Homo sapiens: one gene and its partners. The protein of the gene in region 1 interacts with the protein of each later gene in a pairwise test. Each region holds a gene or a part of one and is shown on either strand. Other genes may lie near its edges.

Evidence for each region. The genes of interacting proteins can lie anywhere in the genome.
Region 2: the proteins of LONRF1 (region 1) and LGALS9B interact in binary tests that used the Homo sapiens proteins (3 or more experiments, as listed by UniProt).
Region 3: the proteins of LONRF1 (region 1) and KRT75 interact in binary tests that used the Homo sapiens proteins (3 or more experiments, as listed by UniProt).

The regions. Positions count from the first base shown.
Region 1 is NC_000008.11:12,724,527-12,731,551, forward strand, and holds part of LONRF1 (LON peptidase N-terminal domain and RING finger protein 1), read right to left. Parts: intron 4,807-7,025; coding exon 4,648-4,806; intron 4,538-4,647; coding exon 4,375-4,537; intron 2,779-4,374; exon of another isoform or gene 2,706-2,778; intron 1,354-2,705; coding exon 1,201-1,353; intron 1-1,200.
Region 2 is NC_000017.11:20,464,518-20,472,089, forward strand, and holds the start of LGALS9B (galectin-9B), read right to left. Parts: upstream 3,023-7,572; 5' UTR 2,954-3,022; coding exon 2,915-2,953; intron 1-2,914.
Region 3 is NC_000012.12:52,424,350-52,431,374, reverse strand, and holds part of KRT75 (keratin, type II cytoskeletal 75), read left to right. Parts: intron 1-669; coding exon 670-834; intron 835-2,631; coding exon 2,632-2,757; intron 2,758-2,898; coding exon 2,899-3,119; intron 3,120-4,523; coding exon 4,524-4,558; intron 4,559-6,619; coding exon 6,620-6,858; 3' UTR 6,859-7,025.

The DNA of each region.
Region 1 (7,025 bases):
CTACGTCAAACCCTTCATTCTGGGAAAATGACGGGTGGTTGCTTTTGCTTTCCTGCCCAAATCCTAACTCACACAACACTGCTAACAGAAAGCAGTGATACAGGACAGGATAATAAAAGGCAAGGGTGGTGAAGGTGATGGAAAAGTTATGCTGAATTTTTCTATAAGCTGTTTTGTTATTTAAAATTTCTTATTCAATATTGTTCTTATCAAAGCCCATTTCTGTGATGTTTAATCAGATTCAAGTAATCAGTTAAAACAAATAGATGGCAACTGATAATATGCTAAACAGAATGAATACTAAATTTGGAGATGGCCTAATGTTGGTGTTTCAAGTTCAGGTGAAGGATTCAATTGGGATTCAGACAAATGTAGACCAACCCTTGAAAACGGGAATGAGGCAGTGTGCATTACAATGAGATCTATTATCTCTCCATCTTCACATATTTACTGACAGCCATTCCTTTGTAAAATCTATCACCTTCTGATCAAAAACATTTAGTTCAATTCAAAATGCTACGATGCCTAAAACGTAGTGCTTTAGTAAGTCTATGATCAGATTTTCCAGGAGCCAGACCCTTCTTTTATGCCTCCTGCAGTTTTGCTTGCACAGAAAGTGCCAGATACACATTCATTAGACTAAGCTTAAGTGTAAACCCTAAGTACCTGCAAGACTAAAAGAATAATAGTTTCATGAGAAGCGAGGTATTAAACATGAAGAGACAAAAATGAATTGAAGTGGTTGGGTCAAATGTTGGGAGATACAAAGAAAGGTGAGAAAAGATGTTTCAAATGTATAGAAAATGGTAAGTCTCTCTGCTGTCAAAGAATAACAGCAACAGGCGATGGGCTCAAAGGCATGGTTAGTTGTCCCACAGTCACAGTTTCTAGATAGTAACATCCCGTTTTTAATTCCTTACCCACTCCTAAAAATCCTCTTAAGGACTTGCTCCCTTTCTGGCACTCTCTCCTACAGGCATCTCAGCTGACACGTATTTCCAGCCTCTATCTGTACGGAATGTAGTGGAGACCACTGCTCTAGAGAACTCATGATTGCAAAGATGAGGTGGGGCTGGTGCGGGGGAGGGGACAGTCAAAGAAAAAGTAGTGCAGAAAGGACAATGAGAAAACAAATGTAGAAGTGTGCAAATTTGGGTTTATAAAAAAGTGACTTTTGGAAGAACAGAAAAGCCACCATACCTGAAGGTTTTCCTCCCTCTCGGGCATTGATCCGAAATGCTGAAGAATTTGGCTTCGAAATCTGTCTCTTAAATTCTGAAACCAGCTGCAGGCTTGAGAGTAAACCAAATCATGAAGCTCTCTGAGATTCTTAATCTCATCTTCATTCTCAACCTAGAAATACAATAGTCAGTAAGACTTCTGTGTCTAATCCCCCGTCCATATGCCATATGCCAACCGACACAAATGGAAAAAGGGATCAGAAGAACAGGGCAATACCTGTTTCAGTGCTGACGTCCCAGAGAGTATTATTCCTATGCTTTAATACACATTTCTGTCTCATATAGGGCTGACCAGACTAAAGAAAGACAACAAGGCCTGACCTATGCCTAACCTTGCTGACTTAGCAGTGCAATATTGCAGAACCCTACAACAGCCCTCAAGTGGGAAGAGTAAGATTGAGAGTGAGTTCTGGTTCAGAGGTCTAATTTGGAATTCCATTTGTCTTTATGGATCAATGGTTTTTGAAAGCAGTGGAACAAAAAAGTGGATGATAGTTGCTACAAAAAAAGAAAAGATAAGTAGTTAGGGTGTAGATGACATGACAGAAAGTAGTAACAGGAGGAGTCCAGGCACAGTTACATCTTTTACTAGGGAACTGGGTCAAAACACAAAAACAAACAAAAAGCTACAACAAATAAGTTAGCATATAAAGCCAGTATGTCAGAGAGTCAATTACACAATGATGAGCTTCTGCTGGCAAGGCCCAAGGCTATGGCTACCTCTGGAACCCCTCAGTGTATTCTTTAGACTACTGGGTCACCAAACTGCAAATGTAAAATTAATTGCATCAGGCTTCCAGCCTGAGATAGAAGAGTAGTCTCAGAGAACACAGGTGGGAAGATCTAAGTTTAACTCATCCATCTTATACTGATTTCTTTAATGCACACTTACATCCCACTTGCTACTTGCCAGGTCGTGCTCTGTCTCATATGCACAAACTCATCTGAAAAAATACCAGGCCTGACTCAGCCTTTCATACTTCAAGGATGACTCATTTAAAAACAACAAAGGGACTCTGAAAACATTTCGAAATATAAAAATAAGACTACAGCACACCAGAGACAAAAAAGCAAACTTTTTACTTTTGAAAGATTTGAAATGAAAACTAAAGTTTAAAGAGCATCTGTTTTTTGCATAACAATGTGAATGTACTTAATGCCACTGTGTGCACTCAAAGATGGTTAAAATGGTAAATTCTATGTATATTTTACCACAATAAAAATAAACTTTTAAAAAAGGTAGAGGAGCCACACAATTGAAGAATTTTGGTCCTGAAATGACTATACATGATTCAGGCCCCTGCTAACATACATTGATAGGAGCAAGAAACAAACTTATGCCTTGTTAAATCTTTTTTTTTTTTTTTTTTAAAGCATCTGCTCTGCACCCTCACAAAATTCAAGAAAACAAATGACAGGCTCTGGTAAACAAGGAATGATAACAATTATAAGCGTCAGTGATGAAAAACGGAGCTGGCCAAAAAGCAGGCAGAGACGCTTTTAAAGTCTCTGCCTGCTTTTTGGCCAGCTCCATTTTAAAAGCAAGCTTTTAAAGTCAAGGAACTTTACTGTGATAATTTTAACAGAACTTAAAATTTCATTAGAAGTCACAGAAAACAGAATTATTATAAGAAGAGGAAAATTTGCCATATAAAACAAATTTGAGAAGGTTTTCCAGAATGGACAAGAAAATCATTATATAGATGAAGACATGATGAGAAAAGATTACTAGACATTCCGAGGACCAAAGAGGACTCGTTTATAAATATCATATCTGTAATACTTTTAGAATGTGATTCTATTGCCTACATGTTTGTAAGTATTAATACATATAGTCATGTAATTTAGCCATATACTCAAGTGATTTTGTCATCAAATCCAATAAGTGAAGACATAAATTTACACAAAACTGAAATATGGTTATTAACTTTACAAAGAAGAACCTTTAGCAAGTGATTCCATTAACCAAGTATGCCTAAGGCACAGATTCTATCAATCAACTCAAAATTTCAACTCACACAATACTTTCGGCCAACTGCACAAGACAAAGTACCCCCATAGCATTTTTATAATAAGATAGGACTGCCAACGTCAGACTAATCAGGTTTATCAACAGAGAGCCAAATGGCATAGTGATAAAGCTCAAAGTCTGAGTCAGACAGTTTGCTTTAATCATTTTTGTTACATTATCTATAGGCTCTCAGGCAAATTAATTAACACCTCTGAATTGTACTTTCCTCATCTACTATTTCATAGAGTTGTGAAAATTCTATGAGTTAATGTTTGTGAAAATACCTAATGCCAATATCCAATAAATGCTGACGAAATGAAGGGCCTAAACAGATCAATGAATAAGAGAAGGGATAAGATCTATGTTTTTATAATGCCTTTCCAAAAGAAATTGCCTTCAATTTGGTATTTGTAGCATCATAAGTCACTTTTCCGGTTCCTAAACTAACTGCAGTAGGTAAACTGGGTATTGCAAACATCAAAAGGGCCACATTAACCCTATTCTAGAAAGACATCACAAAAACCCTACCCTGTTAAGATATCACCAACATGTACACTGGCAGTGCTTTCTATGTCTGCCCCAGGGTCTTCACACAGCATTCAACTCTATTTTATCATTAAGGTTATCTTAGGCACAAGAACAATCTTAATATATAAAACAATTCTTATAAGATTTGATGTGTTTACATTTACATCAAATTTCAATCTACTAATTCCATCGGCTTCAACTACTAATACATTCAATAAAACAGGGCAGAAATGTAAACCTTTCAAAACTTAGATGGGTTGGAAGTTCAACTTATTCAACCACTATTGTTAAGTACCTATCACGTGTATACACACATGCACATGTGTACATATACACATACATTCTAGGCACTGGGCTGGTTGTTAAGCCTGCAGAAATAAAGAGAATCTATGTTCTAGTCTTCCAAGTTCTCTTAGAATGTGCAACAGTTTCAGAGCAAGATACGAAAAAGGTAACTTGGAGCACATTCTCATCACAGTGGTAAGGCTGTCTGATAAGAACTGGTTCATGCACCTAGAAAATAGCCTGCATGCCTGTACCAATCCCTGGAACAGGATATACGAAAGTATGCTGGCAAAGCACATTTTAAAATACCTTAACATCTTCCAGATATTCAATGTCGGCAGTGCAATATCCATCTTTCATTCCTCTTTTTAAAACCCTAAACCGCTTTCCTCCAACTGTATCAACCACAGACCTTCCGTCCGGTAAGAAATGCACGTTTCTAATTTGTAACATACAACCATAATCTGCAAAACTAAAAGAAAACCTTGATTAGTAACAAAGTTGAAACATAAACATGCAAGTTCTCATCCATATTGAGAGGTCTAACATAAATACAAATATTTAGGTTCACAAAAAGCATACCTATTTTGTGTATCACTGACACACATGCCAAACTGTTTGGTTCCAGTCTGTATACTTCTTCGAATCATCAATCTGTATCTTGGCTCAAATACATGGAGAGGGCAAGGCACAGTGGGGTAGGCCATAGTGCAAACAAATATTGGAACATTCTTGGTCAAGCTAAGGGAAAAACAGTTTAATTATTAGAATTCATACAAGAAAAATATTACCGAACACATACAAAAAATGAGTGAGGTTTATAACAGTAATGAACTAATGTAAAGCAAAAAAAGAATTAGTTCTAAATAAGGTGGTTTTTATTCTTGGCAAGAACAAGAATCAGCACCCCGTTCACTAAGCTCACACTGATGAAATATTAATACTGAAAATCTGCTGTGATCCTCTTATTTATAAGAGTAAACTGAATTTTAAGACACCAGATTATCTTACAGAGCTAAGTATGTTTATGAATCAAGAGAATTTATTATAAGTAATATTTTATATTAAAATCTGTTTTAAATATTTATAACATGACAATAAATACCTTTTATCCCAAACACTCATAGTTACTCTTAGATAACAAGAAAAAGTGAACTCCCACAACAAAGAGCAAATACTTAAAAATTCTCAGCCATTATTTTCAAACGCAAGGATAAGAAAACATATTTTGATGAGATAACATTTTTTCCAAGTAATTAAAATGATATAACATTTTTCATTGCCAGATTGGTAGAAAGAAAGAGAAGGATAAAGGCAATGCCCAGTTCTGTCTGAGGTATGGGAAAAATGGCAGCATGGGGGCACTCTGAAACAGCACAGGCACGCTAAAGAACATGGCTACAGACAGCAGAAACCTTACGTTGTTGGCAGGAAATGTTCATGTTCTTGGAACCAACCAGCTTATTTTCAGACATAAGCAGGCAAGTGCTATATGAATGTTCACTGTAGCAATGTGGATAGTAACCAAATTGTAGAATCATAAAGAGGAGACTAGTAAGATCAATTATGGTACATCCATAAAACGGAATACTATGTTTCCATTAAAAGATGATGTGTATGAACTGAATTAGAAGAAATGCTTATATTAATGAGAGGAGCAGGTTTTAGATACTGATCATGAATAACATGATCCCATCTTTGTTTAAAGCCTATTTATACATACTACATTCAAGTTTGGAAATATGTATGCCAAAATGCCAATAGTTGATTCCCTTTGAGTTGCAGATTATGGCTTTTTTTAAAAGCTCATTTGTATTTTTGAGTTTTTTTCAAAATGACCATCAATTACTTATATAAACATAAGGTGAAACATGTTTAAAATATGTGTTTTAAGAAACAGCCCCATTAGTAAGCAGCTGGACACCCTGTCGCTTCTCTTCTCTCCAATGCGCAGCTCTCTGTGTGTCTCCCTCCTCTGTCCTTTGAGTCTACCACTCTTCCGTGGGCTGGCTGGTTGTGTCACCATGTTTAAATTTTCAAAAGCAGAAATGCAGTTTTCTTAAATCTAGATGCTTCAGCACTGATCAGAAAGGTTCATAATTGTCATATCATTTTATAAACCACACAATAAAATATCAATTCTGTGAGAAGACAAATCAATATCTATTTCTATAAAGAGTGGAAATCTTTCTTCTGTGGAAGGCACCTGGCTCACTGAAGACATCTGATGGGCACATGTTGATAAAGGAGTCTACAAGCACAGCTTTTCTTAGAAAGTGACATACAAAATGTTCAATTTATATTTTGAAAATCAATGGAAACAAAAAGTTGTTAAATAAAACAGCATATACAAATTATAATTTTGTTTTTTAGTGTGTTCAATTAAAAGAGAGTAAAAGAAATAAAGAAATTAAAAACCCGTTAATAAAATTTAAAGAGACCCAAGTGACTGCACAAGAGGGAAAGACATTTAGGGAAAAGAAAGGGAGAAAAACGGGAAAGAAAAACAGAAAAGGGACAACAAGCAATGCCTGGCCCTGCCTACCCAGCTCCATCAGCTGCTGTGTTCTTTGCAGAGTGGCCTGCCTTACCGAATCCCAAAGTTGCCTCCGAGATTTTCACCCTCCCGACACCAACTCAGTTGTGCTCCCAGTCAGTATCTTCATTAATTGAGGATTTGGCCCTGAACACCCCTCTTCCAATTTCAATCTCAGATCTCAAAGTTTGGAAAGCCCCCTTCCGGGCCTCCATGTGACAGAAAATCCCCTGCTAATCTAGGCTACTGACCCTCAACCTTCCTCTTGCCCTACCACGACACATGAGAGCCGCCATCACCACCAATGTCACTGTCACCAGCGCCCCCTCTCTATTTCCCATTCCACTGCCTGATGGCACTGTAGGAAATTCCTCCCCCGCCCAAAATACTGCTTCAGCCCACAGAGCTGAGTCAATAACTCCCT
Region 2 (7,572 bases), on another chromosome or scaffold:
ACCTTGCTCACACGATGATTTTAACATCTGCCCTCCAGAATCATTAAGAAAGCAAATTTGTTGTTTTAAGATTGGCCAGCCAAGGCTGCTGTGGAATTTAGATCCGTGTGTCCAGGAAACCCAGGAAAACAACTGGACCTACTTTTGCTCCGTAGGGTGCAGGAGGATGGATTTTTGTGTTGGATTTGTGGTCCCATGGGCCTGGGCTCGCCTCCCAGCTCTGTACACTAGCAATTCTGACACTGGCCAAGTCACTTGACCTGCCTGTGCCCCACTTCCCTCCTCTGAATGGCAGGGCAGTAACACCACCCGACAGTGTTCTGGAGAGGACTGGGTGCAATGCTGTGTGCTGAGTCCCTGGCTGGCAGCATTCTGGAGAGGACTGGGTGGAATGCCATGTGCTGAGTCCCTGGCTGGCAGCGTTCTGAGAGGACGGGGTGCGATGCCATGTGCTGAGCCTCTGGCCCATGTCGGCCTTGACAGTGCAGCTCTTTGCATGGAACAAATCAATCCCTCTGCTGAGTCAGAACTTGCTCTCTGTTCCTGGTTGTGCCCAGAGACCGGGGACTTTCCCTCTTCTTCCTACCTGGAAGTCAAAGCAGAGCTGAGCCCTGCGGACCAGAATGTGGGCAGCCTCATTCTGGACTCAGCATCACCAGAGGACACCAAGGCCTGGCCCCAGGAGTAGGGAGCTCAGCCTGGCTGGCCGAGACTGCCTGCCAGCTGGAGCCAGTACGTGGCCCTTAGCCAAAGTGCCCTGTTGCCTCAGAGGCTCCACGGTCCTGCTGGCCACCTTTCATGACACTTTGATTTTAGCCTTCTGACCTCCAACACTGTAAGCACAAATGTGTTGTTTTAAGTTGGCCAGCTAAGGCTGCTGTGGCATTTGGATCCATGTGTGTCCATGAGGGCTCTGGGGGTGACCGGGAACATTTATCCTCACAGCAACCCCGGCCACTTTTACAGATGAGGAAACTGAGGCACAGAAAAGTTCAGTCACTTGCCCAAAGCTACACAGCTGGTCGGCAACAGAGCTGGGATTTGAACCCCAGCACCCACGCTTCTAACCACCACACAGGCTTCCTCTCATGAGGAAGCTCGGAACGTCCTTATTCCTGGCTCTCGCAGTGCTTCCTGGGCCACACAGCAGGTGGTTCCAGCTTCCCCCCAGCCCTCCAAAGAGGCTGGGCTAGATGAGGCCAGACAAGAAGTGGGAGTGAGGTTTCCAAGCCAGGCCCTCATGGCACTCAGCCCTCCTCAGCAGGACAGTGAACCGCGTGACCTTCCCCCACTGTCGGCATGTGGAGAAAGCGTGGCTCCGACTGCCAGATGGGTCACCGAGTGAGGCTCAAGTGTCCCAACCCAGGGGAGCCCCCGTAGGGTAGAGGGGAGCTCTGGACACCTGTGGGGGCTGCACTGATCGTCTTTCTTGTCTGAGCTCCAAGGCCCCGCTTTAACTCTCTCAAACTCTCTGATGTGCATAGGAGGATTTTCCTTCTGAATCCAAAGATTAGAAAGTAAAAACCAGTTACCAGAATAATAATATGTCAGAACCTGGAAGAAGCTCTGGGATCCCCTCTCTGGCAGAAAACCAGAAACGGGGTGACATGCTCAAGGTGGCATACGCTGACTCTAAGGCTCGCCCAACACCGGCAGCCCGTTCCAGCTTCCCCCACTCCCTCTATGCAGGTTCTACCTTGGGGGCTTCCATAGGGTGGCTGAGGGGTCATTGGTGACAGCCAGGAGGAAACAGGCCTCCTTTCTCCATTCTTCCTCTCTGGAGTCTAGAAAGCAGAGCTGAGCTCTGCAGACCAGAACATAGGCAGCCTCATTCTGGACTCAGTATCACCAGAGGGCACCCAAGCCCGACCCTGGCCTCTGCTGAGGTGGCCCCTGGCAGCTTCCCTGCCCTCAGCACCCTGCCTCTGCCCACCCTCCCCATTCTGTCTCCCCACTCAGGAAGGGCCCATCAGCCCACCCACTCCAGCCCCTCGGGAAGCTCTTTGCCAAGGCAGGGTGAGATCCTGTGACAGGACCCAGCCCAGGACACAGTCACCCCTGAAGGCTCCTGGGCTCCTGGGGCTGCCACTCCCATCTGGGGGCATTTGGCAACTGGCCTTTGCCTCCCTGAACCTTGGATTTTCCGTGAATGAAGGGGACTCATAAACCTCACAGAGTTTCAGCAAGGCACCTGCAGCCCTCTGACCCCACACTGCAGGGACAGTCCCTGCCTCCGTCACCTCTGAGACTGTCCGTCTACAGATGCCCTGACATGCCTATGCCTGGTTAACTCCGCCTCACCCTTCAGAGCACAGACACCTCCTCGGGAGGCCTTCCCTGCTGCCCCCAGACTCCCAATAACATGAAACACTCCCAAAGCACCTACAGTGTGTCAGGCACTGTTCAAACACTCTAGATACACTACTTCCTTAATCCATATCCCAACCCTGGGAGTGGGGGGCTCAAGTATTATTCCCACTTCACAGATATGGAAACTGAGGCCCAGAGACCACCAGCCAGTAAATAGCTGGACCCAGGGAGGCCAACTCCACAGTACGCACCCTTAACTACCATGCCGGGTAGCATCCTTACTGTCCCAGAAGCATGCTTGCTTCCTCTTTACACAAACCATCCCACTCTACACCTCTTCCCCTGAGCGCACAGGACAGGACACGACAGCTCAGCCAACACTGTCAAACCCATGATTCATGGGAGGAGCATCCCTCCAGGCATGAGTGAGCTCAGCATGGCACAGCTGTGCCAGGACGACCCCCACTGACATTTCTGCCCTGCTTGTGTTCTCTTTGGGATGCCCCCACCCCTGTCTCCTGCCACCCAGGAGTTGCTTCCTCAGAGCCCCATAACTGTGTCCCCCTGGCTGAGGCAGCCCTGTGCCCACGGCCCTGGAACTCACTGGGCTCAGATAGGGAGCCTGGGAACCGCTGAAGGCCATCTCCACCGCCTCTGTGGCCACCGCTGCCTTTCACACCTGCCAGGCAGTCCTTTGCAGAAGGAATGACTTAACAAAGTAATAGAAACCAAAGCAACTTGGCTGTTATTCAATGGGGAGGAGCCGGCAGCAAGAGGAAGTGGGTCCAGAGAGAGAAAGGTAGGGTGTTGGGTGAACTGGGGTGACACTCATAGAGGGAAGTAGGCACTCCCAGCCCCAGTGACCTTTCCCTCCTCCCTCTCCTGTGCTCAACCCCAGCCTGAAGCATATTTGGTTCATAGAGGTCTACAATGCTTGACCACACTGACATGACAGTGAGTTGCCAGATGACACTGCCCAGAAGTATGTGGCTGGGTGTCCTAAGCATGCTTGGCCACTGGTTCCAGAAAATAATGGGGCTGGGCATTGCCTGTGCACAGGGTGCTTGTGGGGAAGGGCGGCTTCAACCCATTTTACATATAGAGAAGCTGAGGCTCAGAGTCTGAGGGACATGCCCCAGGTCACACAGCTAATTCGTGGCAGCCTGAGCTATATGAAGATTCTCAGAATCTTCAAGAAGTATTTCTCCTCTTTAAATTTCTATTCTTCATGTTAAAACATAATTATGTAGAAGGGAATATTTTGCATGAAAAACACTATAATGAAGATTTTTATTCTAGAGTATGGGGTGCCCAGGAGCTTCTGATCCTCCCCCTCAGTGAATCTCTCTTTCTTCTCTTCTCCATCCTTATTTTGTGAGCTTTAGGATGGGGAGAGAAGTCTTGGACATAATAGAACATTTCAAGTGACATGGGAGTGGGAAGGAACATATGGCATGAACTGCCTTTAATTGGCTTCAGCACCTAGTTAGGGGAAATAATTGGCTGAAACAGAGAATAACAGGATAGGCTGCAGAGGGGAGAGGGAGCCATGAAATAAACTTACCTGAAGTTGACCAGGTCCCAACGATGTGCTGGCGAGAAGGCCCAGAACTCAAGCTGGGGATGGGCGGGTAAGGACCATACAGGCTCGAGGGGATGGCAGGTGCCCCAGGCCATACGTGAGTCTGCACCTCTCTTCCTTCCTGTGTTCTGCCTAGATGCACTAGAATTTGCAGACGAACTCCTTTGAGATGTTCCCATAGACTGAGGCCGTGTGTGTCGTCTGCACTCACCATCCCATTATGTTCTGGATCAAGTAGAATTTGACCAAGTTAAGGAGTAGACAGTACAAGGGGAGCAGAAAGGAGAGAAAAGAAGGGAAATTCTTTGCAATCCTCTCGAACACCAGGAATATTTTCATCACGTCACGTCATTTGTAGCAATCACCAATTGATTGGGATATGGAACAACTGGAACTATCATTCATAGCAGACTTGAGTGTAAAATAATCCAACTTAGAAAAATGGGCAGGGCGTGGTGGCTCATGCCTGTAATCCCAGCCCTTTGGGAGGCTGAAGCGGGAGGATCACTTGAGTCCAAGAAGTTGAGACCAGCCTGGTCAAGATAGGAAGACCCTGTCTCTACATATAATTTAAAAGGCAAATTAGCCAGGTGTGGTGGTGCACACCTGTGGTCCCAGCTATGTGGGAGGCTGAGGTGGGAGGCTCACTTGAGCCCAGGAGGCCGAGGCTGCAGTGAACCCTCATCACGCCACTGCACTCCAGCCTAGGTAACAGAGCAAGACTCTGTCTCAAAAAATAAAAAAAATAAAAAGAAAGAAAAACTGCTTGGTGAGTTGTAATATAGTCAAATATCTACTTCAAAGTTGCTGGCTTTTCTACTTCTGAAAAATTACCCAAGAGAAAGGAAAACATATTTGTCTGTTTTTAAAAGCTTTACTCGTCATAGCCCCAGGCTGGTAACAATGCAAATAGTCACCAACAGAAGAAGGGAGAAATGAATTGTGGTTTTCACACCACAGGGTGGCCCTCAGCAATAAAAAGGAGCTAGGCCACAGGAAACGTCAATGAGCCTTGCAACTGAGCGGAAGAAGCCAGATCCAAACAGACACATGCTGTGAGAATTCCATTCGAGTCAAGTTGAACAACAGGCCAGAGTGGCGTTACCCTTGGGAGTCACTGACTGGGAGGGGCACGAAGGAGTCTTCGAGAGGCTGGAAATGTTCTGGATCTGGTTCTGGGTGGTGGTCCCACAGGTGTTTACATCCATTAACAACAGGCTGAGGCTGGGTGCAGCAGCTGACACCTGTAATTCAGCACTTTGGGAGACTGAGGCAGGAGAATTGCTTGAGTCCGGGAGTTTGAGACAAGCCTGGGCGGCATAGCAAGACCTTCTGTGTACTAAAAATCAAAAAAATTAGTGAGGCATGGTGGTGCATGCCTGTAGTCCCAGCTACAGGGAGGCTGAGGCAGGAGTATTGCTTGAGCCTGGGAGGCTGAGGCCACAGTGAGCTATGATCGTGCCACTGCATTGCAGGTTGAGTGACAGAGCAAGACCCTGTCTCAAAACAAAACAAAACAAAACTCAAACAGAAAACCAGGATCTGTACATTTTATTCTACCTAGACAATATCGCCATAAAATACTGCTAAAAGAAAAAATCTCCCAGAGCCCAAGGAGACACAGGCACAGCTAAGAGTTCCAGCAGTTTAGCACCTTAGCATCACCTTGAGCCTTGGAGGTGAGTCACAGTTAAGCAGCTTCACTAGTGAGTCCAGCCCATAAAGGAGGGCCCTCTGCTCCATGCCCTGTCTGGAGGGGCCCCAGTAAGGTCATACCCAAAGGCTGACATGTTTTTAGACTAATCAACACAGTAGGGAGGCACTTCGAGGCACAGTGCCAGGCCACTGAGAGTTCTGACTTCGGCACCCTTCAGTCACCACAATCCATTCCCAGTGGTTAGCTCTGGTCTTCAGGAGACTAGAAGCAGCCCTCGGGAATGTTCCTGCTCAGAGCTCTAGTGTTCAAAGTCACAGACCCTTCTCAGAGGCTCTCTCTTCTCTGCCCTAGAGACTGAGGGAGTCTGCCACCTCACACTCATTAGGATGCCTATGATTAAAAAAAAAATCCAGAAAATAACAACTGTTGGCCAGAATGTGAGTAAACTGGAACCCTGTGAAAACAGCGTGGCTGTTCCTCAAAAACCTCATCATAGAATTACTATATGATCCAGCAATTCCACTTCTGGGTATATCCCCCAAATAACCAAAAGCAGGAACTCAAAGAGACATGTGAACACCCACGTTTGTAGCAGCATCATTCACAAAAGCCAAGAGGTGAAAGCATCACGTGTCCATCAACGGATGAGTGGTCAGCAAAATGTGGGCCAGACATACAATTCAGCCCTAAAAAGGAAGGAAATTCTGGCATATGCCACAACATGGATGGTCCTTGAGAACATTAAGTGAAATAAAACAGCCATAAAAGAACAAGCACTGTAGGCCGGGTGCGGTGGCTCACACCTGTAATCCCAGCACTTTGGGAGGCCAAGGTGGGAAAATCACCTGAGGTCAGGAGTTCAAGACCAGCCTGGCCAACATGGTGAAATCCCGTCTCTATTAAAATTACAAACAGTAGCCAGGTGCGGTGATGAGTGCCTGTAGTCCCAGCTACTCGGGAGGCTGAAGCAGGAGAATCGCTTGAACCTGGGAGGCAGAGGTTGCAGTGAGCTGAGGTCGCACCACTGCACTCCAGCCTGGGCAACAAAATGAGACTCTGTCTCAAAAAAAAAAAAAAAGAAAAAGAAAAAGCACTGTATGATTTCACTTGTCTGAGATACCTAGAGTGGCCAGAATCAACAAAAGAAAGTAGAATGGTGGTTAGGGGCTGGTAGGAGGGGGAATGAAGACTTATCATTTAATAGGCATAGAGTTCTGGTTTTACAAGATGAAAAGAGTTTTGCGGATGGATGGTAGTGATAATTGTATAACAGCATGAATGTTCTTAATACCACAGGTCTACCACTTAATATTGGCTCTTGGCTAAGATCTTAGCTGAGGCCATTGACTAGAACACCTGCAAGTGGCTTTTCCACATGGCTTGGGCTTCCCCACAATATGGTGGCTGGAGTCCACGGGTGAGCATTCCCAGTGAGAGCCAGGTGGAACTTACATCCCTTTTATAACCTAGCCTCAGAAGCCATCCAGTGCCATTTCCACCACATTCTATTTGTTGAGGCAATCACATGAGCACCACCCAGGCTCAAGGGGAGGGGAAAGAGACCTCACCTCCAGACAGGAGGCAGCAAGAGGTTGAAAGAGCACCTGGGACCAGGAATATTTGGAAAATTCAATGCCTGCCGCAGACAATAAGTAAGTGCTGGACTCCTCTGGGCACTGGGGTACAGAGAGAATTGGACATAGTCCCAGCCTTAAGCATCTCATATTCCAAAGGGTAAGATGGATATACAGCTGGGCTACATGGCTTCAAGGAGGAAGTGCACAGAGATTTTTTTTTTTTTTTTTTTGAGACAGAGTCTGTCTCTGTCGCCCAGGCTGGAGTGCAATGGTGCCATCTCAGCTCACTGCAAGATCCCCCTCCAGGGTTCAAGGATTCTCCTGCCTCAGCCTCCTGAGTAGCTGGGATTACAGGCACCCACCACCACACCCGGCTAATTTTTTGTATTTTTAGTACAGACAAGCTTTCACCATATTGGCCAGGTTGATCTCGAACTTCTGACCTC
Region 3 (7,025 bases), on another chromosome or scaffold:
TCATACTAAACTACCCCAGCTCTGATGCTTCTCCCCCGAACTCCCTTATCCCATGGCAGGACAACATCTAACAAGGAGAGAGTACTGATTCCCAAATTCTAGGACACTGGGTAATTTCCCAAGGAATCAACACATACCTGCTCCCTTCCCCTTCCCTGAAAAGTATTAAAAAAAAAAAAAGGCAAGCTGTCCCTCAGCTCATTGGTCAGGGGGCTTCCTACCCTTTGAAGATGCCTCATTCTGGGCGCTACCCCTCCAAAGGCAGAGACCTGGGTCTGTGGAAAGGGAGAGAGAGGTAGAAAGTGATGGAGTCACACTGTGCAGGGGGAAGCAGTGTCCCAGATGTCCCCAATGCTCTTAAAGAAGCCGTTTATGTTGGCATACTGAACAGACACGTGTCACATTCAAATCTATGTAATTCCAATTCAGAGGATGCTTACCCACCCTCATGCCTGGGGAAAGCACACAGATGGGAGCCTTGAGAAGTAAGGCTGGGAAAGATTTTCACCACACTGATCTTTTGGGATGAATGGGAATACCTAGGGAATAGCTGGGAGAATCTGCCAGGAATACCAAGGAAAGGATTCCTGACCTAGATGGGTAGTTAACCACGAAGATTTAAGATTCTTCATCTTATGCCTTGGTGATGCTGAGTTTACTGCCCTGCAGGAGCTGTCCCAGTTGCAGACCCAGGTCGGTGACACATCCGTGGTGCTGTCCATGGACAACAACCGCAACCTGGACCTGGATAGTATCATCGCCGAGGTCAAAGCACAATACGAGGACATTGCCAACCGCAGCCGGGCCGAGGCTGAGTCCTGGTACCAGACCAAGGTGAGCATGGACACCTCCATGAGAGGTTCCAGGGTTAGTGTTCTCTGAGGCTCCACATTATCACTTAACTCAGCCTCAGGAAACGTGTGAGCACATTCGTTTATTTCAACTTAGCAGGCATGTCTTTGATGCTATGACAACTTAGCTTGAAATGCATGTGGAAACCGAACCAGACACACTAATACATGGTCAGCCCAATGCTGGGAGCTCAGGACATCCACTGGCCCCACATTCCTCAAGATCTGGGTGGGAGCAGGGTGAGACACCAGGACAACCGAGACACAGTCATGAAGCAGTTTCTAAAAGGCTTATTTATTCTCTATATATTTTCTGAGCTCCTGCTGTATGCCAATCAGGGTTACAGGGTTGCAAATAAATAAACTGCAAACAGAGAACCCAAGCTCTGGGAGGCCATGAAGTGAATGGACAATCATGGAAGGGAAAAGATAGCATGAATAAAAAGCTTCCAGGAAGACATGGGGGCTTTGTACAGTTGGGAAGCCATGAGGGACAAAAGATTGCTGAGGAGTGGGGAGAGGTTTAAGGCTGAACAAGGAGCTGGCAGGCAAGAACAAGCAAGGGAGTTTATGTCAGGAAGAGGAAGGCTGGGATAAACACAAACAGCTACTGCCCAGAGCTCAGACAGCCGCAAAGAAGTTTGGCTTTGCGGGGTACAATTGACCCATGATACCAGCTCCCTGTCAAATCCAGACCCCTCTTGGGGCAGCTTCTCACCTACGAGCAGGTTCCAACTCTTTCCCTGCTCCATACGTTGCCTCATCCCTTCTGGTCAGGAGTGTGGTGGAAAGGAAGGTGGGTAGCAGGGACCAGGGTTCCACAGGGCAGAGGCAGCGCCTTGACGGTGAAAGGAAACATGATGCACTTAACCCCAAGGTGAAGTGGTTGAAATCGATAGCAAACGATTCCTCATGTTGTTGGGTTGTTGCTCCATTTAATCATGTATACCTAGAAGCGGGAACCTGAGCTATTCAGCACTTTCAAGAACCCCACAGATCTTGACTCTGGCAGGGGATCTCCTTTTGTCAGGGAAAGGTGTAGGTTTCACTTCAGTCTGCTGGAGGAGACAGGGTGTAATTATTGCTCTTAAATTCACATGTCCTGGATATGCACCATTAGATTGAGAACTACCTGAGATTGGGAATACTTTTACAAAGTCTTCAAAATTGTGCCTTCCACAGCCTCTGCACCATCCCACACCATTCCCCCATATCTCCTCCCTGTTTCCCCAGCACTGGTGTTTGGAGGGCTACCAAAATTCATGGGCACAGTTGGTCTGGATGCACGCTCTGTGACCAGGAACTACCCAGGGACCTTGATCAAATCACCGTCTCACTCCTAGAACTCACCATGTTCCTTCCCTGACCCAGAGTCTTCATGCAGGCTGTTTCCTTTGTCTGGAATGTTCTCCCCCACAACTGGTCACTTAGGTCCCTCCTTCTCATCCTTCAGACCACAGTTCAAGCATCTCCATCTCTGGAGAGACTTCTCTGACCACCACTTCCCACTTCCAAATCTAGGTCAGATTCCTTCATTACACTCTCCCAGGACCCTGTTCATTTCCTAAGGGCACTTATCTTAGTGTGGAACTATACATTTGATAATATGCTAATTCAGTTAATGTCTATGTCCCCCAATAAACTGTAAGCTTCAGGGGGAATGAGTGAATGACCAGGAATGAATGAGCCTGCTTGTGGCACCCAGGGTGGGTCTGTGTGCACAGCGAGTGCCTGGGCCAGGCATTTGACTCAGTGACTGGGTTTGCTCTGGTTCTCTCAGTACGAGGAGCTGCAGGTCACCGCAGGCAGACATGGGGATGACCTTCGAAACACCAAACAAGAGATCTCTGAAATGAACCGCATGATCCAGAGGCTGAGAGCTGAGATTGACAGCGTCAAGAAGCAGGTAAAGATTTGGCAGGGCCAAGAGCTCCTCAAATGCTCATTTCTTCTGGGCCTTTCTGCCATCTTTAAGAACTCCTCCCCAAGAAGCACCACACCTCCATGGGCTGTCAGCAGGACTCATGGCTTCCTCCTGTCCTTACAGTGTTCCAGCTTGCAAACGGCCATTGCTGATGCAGAGCAGCGGGGAGAACTGGCTCTCAAGGATGCACGGGCCAAGCTGGTGGACCTTGAGGAGGCCCTGCAGAAGGCCAAGCAGGACATGGCTCGGCTCCTGCGTGAGTACCAGGAGCTGATGAACATCAAGCTGGCCCTGGACGTGGAGATCGCCACCTACCGCAAGCTGCTGGAAGGCGAGGAGTGCAGGTGAGGCAGATGCACCAACTTCATCCTCAAAGCAAGTTGAGCTCACCTCAGCTTCCTGGGCATTCCTAGGGGCTCGGGCTGTTGCAGCCCCTTCTTCTCCTGGAAGAAAATGCAGTTCAGAATTGGGCTATGGCAAAAAAATAATTTTAATTTCCTTCCAGGCTAGTAAATCATTTGAGGTGCAACTACAGTTAGCATCCCCATAGAAACCTAAAACCTGATCAGGTCTAAGTAACTGAATTCTACCAAAGGAGACATTTGGTTACATGGCAGCTCTCGAAATGTGGTCTAAAAGGCCATGGGCTGAGAACAAACAGTCCTAGGATTTGGGCTTACAGATCTAACACTAAGTAGCTACATAACCTTGGGAAAGTCAGTCTCCCTTCTCTGGCCCTCAATTTCTTCAATGATAAAATGAAAAGGTCAGATTACATGATCCGCAAAGCTTCATGGGAGCTTTGTGCTCTGCCAGTTAGGAGCTGTGTAGCCAAGAGCAGATACTTAACCTCTCCACCTCTCAGTGTTCTCATCCAATAAAATGTGAATAACAATAGTTCTAAACTCTCACATTATTAAAAGGGTTAAAATAAGGGAATACACACAAAGCTCTTAGAACAATGCATGGTACACAGCGTGTTCGATAAATGTTAGCTATCATTCAGTTTCATGGCCAAAGACATAGGCTTTGGTGTCAGATGAATCTGTCTTCAAGTCCAGCTTTGCGACTATGGGCAAGTTAGTTAACTTGTCTGAGCTTCCATTTCTCCCTCTATAAAAGTGAGCAAATAATACCTACCTCATGGGGTTGTTGAGAGAACTAAGTGGTGTGATATAAGTAACAGGTAATCAACAGCTGTTACCTCTTGTTAAGTTTCTCAGTATGTGTTTATGAATGAATGCCAGTTCTGTCCTGAAGATGCTAAAGCAAAGTTACTTGGTTGCTAAGATAATAATAAACTGATATTACTATTGTTATTTTTATGACTCAGACGCCTCTCCACACCTATATACAATAAGCTCAGCCCTGGCTCAGTGCATGACAATGGTCCCTTGTTGAGAGACAAATCTTATTATAGGACAGGCCCTTCTTTCCAGTTGATGCCAGTATATGATTACTTTTAATTTCCTTAAGGCATCTAACTAGTTTAAACCAAAAATTGTATTTCTGAGATTATAGATTTTGCTCCTGTGAACCTCAAACTCCACCTTATTTTATTCATTAGATTATTAATATTATCTTTAATACTACTAGTTCTCAAATAATTTCAACCTGCATTACTTCTGCAATAAAAATAATAAAGTATGTTTAAATGCTTTGTCAACAATTACAAAAGTGTCATTGCAAAGGCCCTTAAGCTGCTGGCCACATTGGTAACCTTCCTTCTCCCTGCTCTTCCCAATCAGGTTGAGTGGAGAGGGAGTTTCTCCAGTTAACATTTGTGAGTATGACATACTTCTTGGGCCATTTGGAGTGTGTGTGGTAGAGGGGATGGGGATGTGGTGGGCTTGCCAGAGGGTGAAGATATGACGGGTTAGACGGGATCTCACAGACAGCGTTCATTTGGAGAAGGTTTGAGGTTTTGGGTCCCTTAAAAAGCAAGCCATATTAGGAGTCTTTAATGTCACAGTTCTTTCCTCTTTGAGAGTGAGGGTGTCACAGAAGGGGTGATGAGAGGTTTGATGTCATTGTTCTGAGTGGGTTTAAAAGATCCTGGCCACATCTCCTACCTCCCAGAATTCCCTGCCTTTTTGTTGGGGCTGCAAGCCTAGCACAGAGGTGAGCACTTGATGTAGACGGGATTTATGAAAATTCCTGGTCTGGCTTGGACCTTTGAAGGGAGCCTTCATGCTGTGGACAAGAGCATTGCCAACTAGGCAGCTTCTCTCCTAAACAGTTTGAGAAGAAGCTCCACTGCTTGGCTCAACTCTGCCGAGTATAACTGCAGAAGGATGCCAAGGGTTTTCAAGGCAGTAAGGGCAGCATAAAATATGGCAGTTGGCTACAGTAGCTCTAAAACAGGAGAGGTATTAACAAGCTGGCATGGCCCTGTGCTGGTGAGAGAAGAAGTGGTCATTCGCAGAGCTCAGTGCTGGCATCACAAGGGCAACAGAAATGACTCTTACAACTCACCCTCTACAAGTGAGTTTGAGTTTGGTTTTCTTGATGGGCATTCATAAGGGCAATTCATTATATTAGCCAATGATTCTAGAAGGCAGAGCCCTCTGAACCACCCAGGTGTCCTTCCTCCCTGATGTCTTTGTCTAGTGGTGCCAGAGACCCTCAAAGCTAATTTTGGGGACAGGCCTTCAAGCATAACCTTGAAGCTCCTTTTCTCTTGAAAACACCTAATTGTCTGTATTAGTTTTCCAGGGCTGTTGCAAAAAGTACCACCAGTCAGGTGGTTTAAAGCAACAGAAATGTCTTGTCTCACAGTTCCGGAGGCTGAAATTAAGGGTTAGCAGGGCCCTGGTCCCTCTGAAACTTGGAGCCTGGACCAGCCTCCTGCTCTGTATATCATGCAGGGTGGCACTATCCCCTCTCCAAACCAGATAGTGTTCTGGAACACGGAGGCAGCATGGGCAGCCCAGCCCCCCTCCAGCCTCCTCCTAGCTCTGGCGGTGGCCATCCATCCTCGGTGTTCCTTGGCTTGTGGCTGCATCCCTCCACTCTCTGTTTCTGTGATTGTATGACCGTGTCCCTGTGTGTCTGTGGCTTCAGATGAATGTCTTCCTTCTTTCTGTATGGACACCAGTCATGTTAGATCAGGGCCCACCCTACAGACTTTATCTTAACTTGGTTATACCTGCAACGATCCCATTTCCAAATAAGGTTGCATTCACGGATACTGGTGTTAACACTTCACCATAGGTTTTTGAAGGACACAATTCATCCTATAACGGAGTCTATTTTTTTAAAATTTGATTTTCCTTCGGCAGGACCCAAAGTAGGGTGCTAGAATGTGTAAGGGGATGAGTTATAAATTAGGAGAAGAATAGGTTGGGAGGAGAACGGGGGCAGAGTTCACTGGCCAACAGGTTAATCTGTCACTTGATCCATCAAGAATATTCCAGCCTCCACCCTGGGATTCTGAGTGTGGGGCTGGGAGACGCTGAGGGAAGAGGAGTGTGCCCCTCCCCCCATAAGCATCCAGAAGGAAGAGAAACTCTGGAGTCAGGCTCAGACAGGGAGACAGACCCAGACGGCACAGCAGGAGGATCAAAGGGAAAGCAGGTGGACTGGAGCTGCTTCCAGGAGGAGAGGGCTCCAGTAGGTTCTGGAAGGGGAGGAGGAAGCCATTCCAGCCTAAGAGGCTGCCTGGAGCTGCAGCTCAGGAACACAGGCAGTGATCTCACTAAGCAGGGGACATTGGAAGGAGGCAAACTGCTGGCTGACGAGACCACCCCCTCCCCACCCAAGGACTCCAGGGCACAGGCCCTCACACTCCCAGCTGTCTTCTCGCTTGCACTTGATCTGACCACACCTCCTCTCTTCCCGGCAGCTGTGGTCACCTCTACTCTTTCCAGTGGCTATGGAAGCGGCAGCAGCATTGGAGGTGGAAACCTGGGCCTCGGTGGGGGCAGCGGCTACTCCTTCACCACCAGTGGTGGGCATAGCCTGGGTGCAGGCCTGGGAGGTTCTGGATTCAGTGCCACCAGCAACCGGGGCTTAGGGGGCAGTGGTTCTAGCGTCAAGTTTGTCTCCACCACATCCTCCAGCCAGAAGAGCTACACGCACTAAGAGAGCCCCATGGCTCCCTCTACCCTGCCTTGAGGCCTGTTTGCAGTCACACCTGGACACCAGGGTCCTCCTCCTTCCTCTCTCCTTGTAAGGTGCACCTGTGCTGCTGGGAGCCTGGAGTACTGGCTATACCCATTCCCAGGCCTAAGCCAGCCTCTCCCTCCTGA